Linked DNA regions of Homo sapiens. The protein of the gene in region 1 interacts with the protein of each later gene in a pairwise test. Each region holds a gene or a part of one and is shown in the gene's direction. Other genes may lie near its edges.

Region 1 (4,157 bases):
AGATAATACTAGCAGCATTGTTTATGCATTTACTATGTGCTGGTCATTGTGTTAAAAATTTTTACATACATTATTGTATTTATATACCTAGTATATTTACATACATTATTATATTAATTTGAATGTAATTTAAGAAACCTATGATAGCTGGGTGGAGTGACTCACACCTGTAATCCCAGCACTTTGGGAGGCCGACGTGGGCTGATCACCTGAGGTTGGGAGTTCGAGACCAGCCTGACCAACATGGAGAAACCCCGTCTCTACTAAAAATACATAATTAGCCTGGCGTGGTGGCGCATGCCTGTAATGCCTGTAATCCTAGCTACTCAGGAGGCTGAGGCAGGAGAATCGCTTGAACCGGGAGGCGGAGGTTGCAGTGAGCCGAAATCGCGACATTGCACTCCAGCCTGGGCAACAAGAGTGAAACTCCATCTCAAAAAAAAAAAAAAAACAAAAAACTAACTAAAAAGAAACCTATGATGTAGGTACCATTTATAGAAGAGGTTTTTAGAGGTTAAATATTTATTTGTCCAAAGTCAAGCAATGGGAATGAAATTTGAACTCGATTATTCAGTAATGTGAAAGAAATGTGGTTTTATGTCTTTTAAATTCATATAAAGCCGAAGAAAGAGTTGGAAGTAAAGGTCTGGGGAATCTTCTGTGATATGTGGAATGATTTGTAAATAATCCATACGCAGCCTCGAAGGAAAGAAGTACTTGGAAAGGATGAAAACTGGCTTTTTTTCCTAAGTAGTTCATGAATTCTTTTTTGGCTTATACTGTTCATCTGCTTAGTAAAGCACTTCTTTGTGGGTAGCATAAGGTAACTTAAATGCCCCTCCCAGGCCAAATTACCTCCACTAATGAATTGGTTGAATCCCAATCAATGAAGAATTGGGCCCGGGTATGATGGCTCACACCTGTCATCCCAGCACTAGGGAGGCCAAGGCAGATGGATCACTTGAGGCCAGGAATTTGAGACCAGCCTGGCCAACATGGTGAAACCCTGTCTCTGCTAAAATACAAAAATTAGCCAGGTGTCGTGGTGGTGGGCGCCTGTAGTCCCAGCTACTCGGAGGCTGAGGCACAGGAATTGCTTGAATCTGGGAGGCGGAGGTTGCAGTGAACTGAGATCACACCACTGTACTCCAGCCTGGGTGACAGAGCGAGACTCTGTCTCAAACAAAAACAAAAACAAAACCAAAACAAATCAATGAAGAGTTAAGGTTCTTTGAAAAAGGGACCAGGAGTGCCTTCCTTTGGTCTTGCTGCAGGGATACTTGCCCTGCTGCCTTCAAGGAGTCCAGTCCCTGTGGTTCTGAGCTGGTAAGTAGGAAAGAGAACTAGGAAACAGCTGTAACCACAATTTGTCGATTCCCTTACCATATGCTGAACATTGCTTGGCGTGCTTTGTGATCCCACCTGCAACCCACTCAAGTGATCATTGTATCTCCACTTAGAGCTAGGAAAATGAGGGCCCACAGGGGTTAATAGTTTGCCCAAGGCTGTATGCGAGTCCATGGCAGAGCTGGGGTGGTCTGACCATTGCCTTATCTGGCCTGGGGGCCGCCTTTCAGCCTGGAACAGGCAGTACTGATAACAGCTGACTTTCCAGCGGTCTTATCACTTTGTAAAGTGCTTCCACACACTGCGACCTCCCTTTGCTCTCACAGTGACAGGCCCAGGGAGTGGGGTGTAGTTGTCACTCCCTTTGTGTGCACATGAAGCTGAGACCCAGCCCAGCTTATCCTGCACTCTGAGGCAGAGCCAAGATGAGAATTTAGGAATCCTCACTTCTGGGCCAGTGCTGTTTTCACTTGTCTGTCATTTCAGGAGTCAGGAACCTCACCTACACCAGAGCGGGATGTGTGGGTGGGAGGGGTGGAGGCCAGGGAGACATCTGAATTTTTTTTTTGTTTCAAGATGGAGTTTCACTCTGTCACCCAGGCTGGAGTGCAGTGGTGCGATCTTGGCTGACTGCAACCTCTGCCTCCCGAGCTCAAGCGATTCTCGGGCCGCAGCCTCCCAACACTGGAATTTTATAACAACGAAGCAATAGAAGAGATCCCAGTCCCAGCCCTGGAATGGGTCGTGGAGGCACCAGGCTGCTTCTTTGGTTGACAGAAGATGGGATGAGGACGGGTTCGAGGGACGGCCTGGGATAATGGACAAAGCGAAATATTGGGATATTTTAACAACCACACTCACCTGCTATTCAGCTTGGGTGGAGGCTGATTGGCCACCAGCCACCACCTTCACTGGGGATTGGAAGGTATAGCTGGGTCTTCTCTCCACAGAGTTCAAAGAGGCCTTTTCATTGTTTGACCGGACCCCGACTGGAGAGATGAAGATCACCTACGGCCAGTGCGGGGATGTACTGCGGGCCCTGGGCCAGAACCCTACCAATGCCGAGGTGCTGCGTGTGCTGGGCAAGCCCAAGCCTGAAGGTCAGTGCGGCTGCATGGCAGACCTCTCCCAGGGTCAGGCTTGCAGCCCCTTGGCTTCCTCCTTGTCCAGATCTTCTCTGCCATCTGCACTCTCTCTTCTCCTGCTTTAGCCCCTCAGGACCAGCCTCACCTACCCAGCTTACCCTAGTCCCATTTTGAGAATTTATCTAGACGTCCCCGTACTTAAGTGACCCTTGAGGAATGTAGCCTGGGCTTGTTTCCCTCACGAGGTTGGGAGCTCCTGTGGGGCATGAGCCACATTCTGTTGCCTCAGTGTCTGAGGAAGGCTGAGTGGGAATCTGGAAATCTGATAACTGATGGTTCCCACTCCCCAGCCCAGGAGCTCTCAGGAGGGGCATCTGTCACAGCACCGAGGTATCCTGTGGTGGCCATCGCGAGCTGTATTACAAACAATTTGTTTCTAATAATGGTTAGAGTACTGACGTTTGCAAATTGTTTGGTATAAATTAGAGCAGCTTCAAGATTCTTAGCTCTACGTGCTGCCTCTTTCATTCATTTGCATTTCAATAGGTTTTGGTGAGTGAGTGTTTAGAATGGTGAGTAAGTGTTTAGAAAGTGGTGCAAACGATTCTTTTGTGGCTCCTAAGTGTGATCATTGAGTGTTCATACTCATGTGAGCTGTGCCTCTGTCAATCATTACGGCAGATGAGAAGAGGTGTGAGGGAGTGTGTCCTGTTTGTGAATGTTGTCTGTCATGTGTGCCAGTCAAGTTAACAGCTGCTCTAAAACACACACACATGCTTCTCCTCAGTGGTGTTGGCACGGGGTTTGGGGTGGGGTGAGCCTCTCAGCAAGGGTGGTCTGTCTCTGGAGGCTTCCTGGGCCCCATAGTGGTTTCCTCCCCATCCCTTGGTTCTGGCCCGTCCCCCTTCTCCTCTGGCTGAAGGTAACCGCGGGGGTGAAGGATGTGGGCAGGAAAGGACCAGAGGGCTAGGGGCTTGCATCTCAGAAGTCAGAAGCAAGTCCTGTGTGCTTATAAAAGAAAGAAATGCCCACATTTGTGATATTTAAAAATAGTTTGCCTCTATTAAATTAAAGCCTTTTAAATACACTACCATGTGGGAGAAGTATGCTATTCACAAGAGAACTGTGAATTTATAAGAATTATTGATTCAGAGTAGCTTCAAGCTGTGTGGTCTAGTGATGGGACCCCATGCAGAGTGATGCAAACGTTGCTTTTTTCAATCCTGTTGGTTTGCCCCTGTGATTATAGGTCTGTCACGTCAAGGGTCTAAACTGAGTGTGAGGCCCGGGCCGCGTGGCACTTCAGACCCCTCACATCCTGCTGCTGCCACCCTCAGCTCCTCCGCTTGGCTGGCCACCTGGTGCTTAGAGGTCTGGGTGGAGGGCTCCTTTTTCCTTCCATCCTACTGCTTTCACTGAGAAAAGAGGGCCCCTGAGACCATCTCCCCAGCTCCCAGTCCCCTACCTTGCTTGGATGGGAAGCTCTGTGTCCTCTAGGAGCACTAATGGGTGTACCACCCAGAATTGGCTGCAGCCCAAGCCCTGGGTGCTGTCAGACTTGGGGTGAGGCCCCCTCTTGACCCTCTGCTCCCTTGAGCACCTGCTCACATTGATTTCTCTTTCTTTACCCTGCCTGCCTGAAGAGATGAATGTCAAGATGCTGGACTTTGAGACGTTCTTGCCCATCCTGCAGCACATTTCCCGCAACAAGGAGCAGGGCACCTA
Region 2 (5,241 bases), on another chromosome or scaffold:
TTTCACATAACCATTGCTTGATTGTGTCTTTCTAAATTTAATTATTTATTTCTGAAGTGGGGCAGTTACAGACCGGTGCTGAGAGCTGGGGCTTTGCAGTTACAGAGCTGTGGTTTTGAAACCCAGACCTACCTCCTAAAGTGACCTGGGACAAATTATTTAACTCCTATGAGCCTCTCGTGTTGCTTTTGTACAATGAGGATAATAAGACAGCCATGTGCCACCATGTTGGTCAACGATAGACTATATACAGTGGTGGTCCCATAAGCTTACAATGGAGCTGAAAAAATTCCCGTCCCCTAGCGATGCCATAGTTGCACTGCAACATATTATTCATGTGTTTGTGGTGATAAGCCTACTGTGTGGCCAGTTGTCAAAAAGTCTAGTACATATAATTATATACAGTACATAATACTTGATAGTAAATGACTTTGTCACTGGCTAATGTATTTATTATACTATACTTTTATTATTATTTTAGAGAGTATTCCTTTTCCTTATTTAAAAAATTCACTGTCAAACAGCCTCAGGCAGGTCTGTCAGGAGGTATCCAGCAAAAGGCATTGCTCTCTAGGAGATGACAGTGCCACGTGTTACTGTCCCTGAAGACCCTGCAGTGGGGCAGGATGTAGAGGTGGAAGTCAGTGACATTGATGATCCTGACCCCGTGTAGGCCTAGGCTGATGTGTGTGTTTGCATTTTACTTTTTAGCGAAAAAAGGTTATAAAGTAAAAAATAAAAATAAAAAATTTTAAAAACAGAAAAAAGCTTATAGAATGAGGATATAAAGAAAATATTTTATATAGCTGTACAATGTTTGTGTTTTAAGCCAAGTGTCTTTTTAAGAGAATCAAAAAGGTTTTAAAAATTAAAATGTTTATAAAGTTTAAAAGTTTGCAGTAAGCTAACCTACTGAAGAAAATTTTTTAATAAATGTAGTGTAGCCTACGTGTACTATATTTATAAAGTGTGCAGTAGTGTACAGCAATGTGCTGGGCCTTCAGTCACTCACCACTCACTCGCCCAGAGCAACTTCCAGTCCTGTAGGCTCCATTCATCATGAGGGCTCTATACAGTATCATTTTTCTTACCTTTTATGCCATATTCTTAATGTACCTTTTCTATGTTTGTTTTTTTTTGTTTTTTTTTTTTTGAGACAGAGTCTTGCTTTGTCACCCAGGCTGGAGTGCAGTGGCGGCAATCTTGCCTCACTGCAACCTCTGCCTTCCAGGTTCGAGCAATTCTCCTGCCTCAGCCTTCCGAGTAGTTGGGACTACAGGTGCGTGCCACCATGCCCGGCTAATTTTTGTATTCTTACTAGAGACGGGGTTTCACCATATTGGCCAGGCTGGTCTCGAACTCCTGACCTCGCTGATCTGCCCGCCTTGGACTCCCAAAGTGCTGGGATTACAGTCACGAGCCACTGTGCCCAGCCTAGACATGTTTAGATACCCAAATACCATTGGATTACAGTTGCCTCCAGTATTCAGTGCAGTAACATTCTGTGCAGGTTTGCAGCAACAGGCTACACCCCACAGCCTATGTGTGGTAGGCTATCAGATCTAGTTTTGTGTAGGTACACTCTGTGATGCTCAAACTGTGATGAAATTGTCTAGCAATGCATTTCTCAGAACATATCCCCATCGTTAAGTGATGCAAGACTGTACTTACAAAGTTATTGTGAGGTAACCATTGTAAACCCTAGTACAGTCCCTGGCATGGAATGAGTGTGTCATGCTGTGATGTGGTATGACATGGCATGGCATAGTGTGGTGTGATATGGCATGGTATGGTATCACATGGTGTGGTAGGGTGTGGTATGACATGGTGTGTGTGGTGTGATGTGATGTAGTGTGGTATGGTATGATGTGGCATGGCATGGCGTGGTGTATGGCATGGTATGTGTGGTATGTATGGTATGGTGTAGAATGGTATAGTGTACTGCGATGTGATACAGTATCGTCTACCATAGGGTACTTGGGCAAGAGGGCTTTTTATAAACTTATATTTAAAAAACAGACACCAGGACCATACACTTGGGAACCTACACACAGGTACCTAAATGGTCACACAAACACAATCGGAGAAAGATGATGGGCAGAGACCACAGAGCCATTAATATGTGGCCCATGCTATTTGTGTTTTGCAGAAACATGGGCTGAGGCTTCATCTTCGAAACCCCTACTCCTTCACCCCCATGCTGGAAGAGGGTGCAGGCAGCAAGGTGCCCAGGTGCCTTCTGCTGGGCACAGACATGGCAGAAAACCAGAAGCAGATCGCCCAGTTCTCCCAGAAGGATGCCCAGGTAGGGAAGGCGACCAGTGACTGAGCTCCTGCTCCCTCAGCAGCCTAGAGATGGGCCTGGTTGGATTGTCCTAGAACAATTGTTCAAAGGCCATGGACACTGCGCCAGGCCACCCCACGTTCCTAGGAGGGCTCCAGTTGGTGGCAGCTCTTGATCTCAGGCACTGCGAAGAGAAGCGGGTGGAGGATGCTGATTAAGACCAGTGGACTGGGAGGCCTGCTCACCTGCGTGTGTTCAGTATGGGGCCACTGTCAGAGGGGCTGTGCCTGCTGAGTTCAAGAGGAAATGCACTGGCACGTTCTTACACTGGCGTGTGCTTCATGCCCCTCCAGCTTTCAGGCAGAGTTCCAGGTGTTTGTCCACATTAAAGCACATGAAAGCCAAAAAGGAGGATGAGGGAAGATCAGAGAAAATTAAGGATAAATAAACTGAATCAGGAACTTAGGACAGGAGAGTTCTAAATATTTATTCAGTGTGGCATCCCAAGGCTCCCTCCTGGCTGCCCAAGGCAACAAAGTGTCCATGATGGTGTGCAGGTCTGGTGACAGGATGAACACATGTCGGATGGAGAATGCACTTTTTTCCCTTGGAACTGCATTCTAGGAACCTGCTGGGTGGCCTTGTCTAGATGAGCCACTGAGTTCCGTAAGGGCCCTGCCACAGTTGGTTCTGTGGATATAGAAAGATTATTTGAATGGCCATTTTGTACCAAGCCTGGATATTAGCTGAGATGTAGCATTAAATCATATCTCAGTGGAGACATTTTTATAAGAAGAACCTAGGTTAATAGAACCCATGTACATTGCTTTTGTTGTGTTAATCTATTGCTGGGTAAAACTTAGAGAACCACAGACACACAGCCTACATGTCTCTTCCACCAGCAGTTTTCAAACCTGGCTGATGATCAGAATCACCTGAGGAGCTTAGCCTTTTATTTTGTTATTTTATTTTATTTGTTTTTGAGACAGGGTCTCACTCTGTTGCCCAGGCTAGAGTGCAGTGGTGCGATCTTGGCTCACTGTAACCTCTGCCTCCCGGGTTCAAGCAATCCTCCTGCCTCAGCCACCTGAGTAGCTGGGATTACAGGCATTCACCACCATGCCCGGCTATGTTATTTTTAATTTTTTTGTAGAGACAAAAGTCTCACTATGTTGCCCAGGCTGGTCTGGAACTCTTGAGCTCAAGCAATCCTCCCACCTCCACCTCCCAAGGTGCTAGGATTACAGGCATGAACCACCACACCCGGCCTGAGGAGCTTAGCTTTTTTAAAAGTGCTTCTTTGGTGGTTCTTTTGTGCAGCAGATTGGAGACCACCACCTGCATCCTCTCGTCCAAATCCTACCCATCTCAGAGGCACTTGAGGGGATTCTGCACAAGGCCAGGTCCCCGGGCCTGCAGGACACTAGCTGTGGCCCTACATGCCAGCGACCACACACGCTGGAGGCAAGTGCCCATTTCCCATCGTGGAAAGTGAGGAGCTTGATTTCTGGTTTTGTCTTTCCATGCTGTCATATTAAAGGCCTGCTTAGAGAAAGCTGTTTAACTTCATTTTTAATAAGACTTCTCGAATGTATTTTAACATGGAACTTTTCTTTATGTAACACTTATTAAAATGCCATGGGTATATCCATGGGTAGAGATGGACCAAAATTCAAAGTCCAGGGCTAAGAAGAGTCAGGTAGGGCCTCCAGTAGCACAGGCTTCTATCACTGCTCCTGTGCCCTCCAGGGAAAGGAGGGTGGGTGTCAGAAACCAGGCTTTCGAAAGTGGATTCTGACATGGGAGCTTGTGGGGTGAGAGGAGGCAGGCTTCTGTGACTGCAGGTGATGAGACGGCATGGGAGACGACCTACAGACCGGAAAAGAATACAGGCAAAGAGGTCTAACTTCTACCAATAATATAGGAAAGGACAGAAGGACAGGCCAGCGTGGCGGCTCACGCCTGTAATCCCAGCACTTTGAGAGGCCGAGGCAGGCGGATCACTTGAGGTCAGAAGTTCTTGACCAGCCTGGCCAACATGGTGAAACTCCGTCTCTACTAAAAATACAAAAATTAGCCGGGCGTGGTGGCAGGTGCCTATAATCCCAGCTACTCAGGAGGCTGAGGCAGGAGAATCACTTGAACCTGGGAGGCAGAGGTTGCAGTGAGCCGACATCGCACCACTGCCCTCCAGCCTGGGTCACAGAGCAAGACTCCATCTCAAAAAAAAAAAAAAAAAAAAAAAGAAGAAAGGACAGAAGGAAGAAACTTCTAAGTGGTTTCATGATTTATCGCAGAGACCACACCCTAGGATTGTTGCCAGTTTTCTGTGGGTGACACTTCGTGTTAGCCAGCATTAGCTCCTTGTCCCTGTCACCACTCCCAGTGATTCTCCTATTGCCCAGGGTCTCCTGACCACCACCACCCCACCCCATGCACTCTTCCTGGTGTTGATGTTAACCCAGAGACCTGGAACTGGGGGAGCTCAACAGAGCCAAGCTGGGCCACAGCGGGGAATGAGGCCTGAGGAACCGTCAAGCTGTGGGGGGGTGACAGGCCATCTGGGGACAGCATGGAGGGCAGGGATGTGGACAGTGGGGCCTTAATGCAGAGCTCTGTTCCAGGTCTTTCCCAAATATGAGGAGTTCATGCATCGCTTGGCATTAGCCATTGACCCTCTGCTGGATGCGGCCCCCGTGGACATGGCGGCCTTCCAGCATGGCTCCTTGCTGCAAAGGATGAGGTCGCTCTCCACCCTCAAGCCCCTGCTGAAGGCAGGTAAGTCCAAGTGCAGGCACCAGGGCATGATGAGTGACCTTCAAGGAGGTGAGCCCATTGTCTCGATGCCTAGACACAAGCCTGAACCTCCATGGCAGCCTGCCAGCTGGGATCAGTTAACATGCTGCGATCAATTAGGGGCAGCCTGGAGCACTTTGTTGAGAGCATCTTAGGCTGAT

What was found.
Region 2: the proteins of MYL4 (region 1) and PYROXD2 interact in a two-hybrid assay, tested with the Homo sapiens proteins (one large-scale study listed by BioGRID and IntAct).

Annotation. Positions count from the first base shown.
Region 1 is NC_000017.11:47,217,607-47,221,763, forward strand, and holds part of MYL4 (myosin light chain 4), read left to right. Parts: intron 1-2,297; coding exon 2,298-2,447; intron 2,448-4,075; coding exon 4,076-4,157. UniProt on the Homo sapiens protein: Regulatory light chain of myosin. Does not bind calcium.
Region 2 is NC_000010.11:98,397,166-98,402,406, reverse strand, and holds part of PYROXD2 (pyridine nucleotide-disulfide oxidoreductase domain-containing protein 2), read left to right. Parts: intron 1-2,149; coding exon 2,150-2,305; intron 2,306-4,908; coding exon 4,909-5,062; intron 5,063-5,241. UniProt on the Homo sapiens protein: Probable oxidoreductase that may play a role as regulator of mitochondrial function.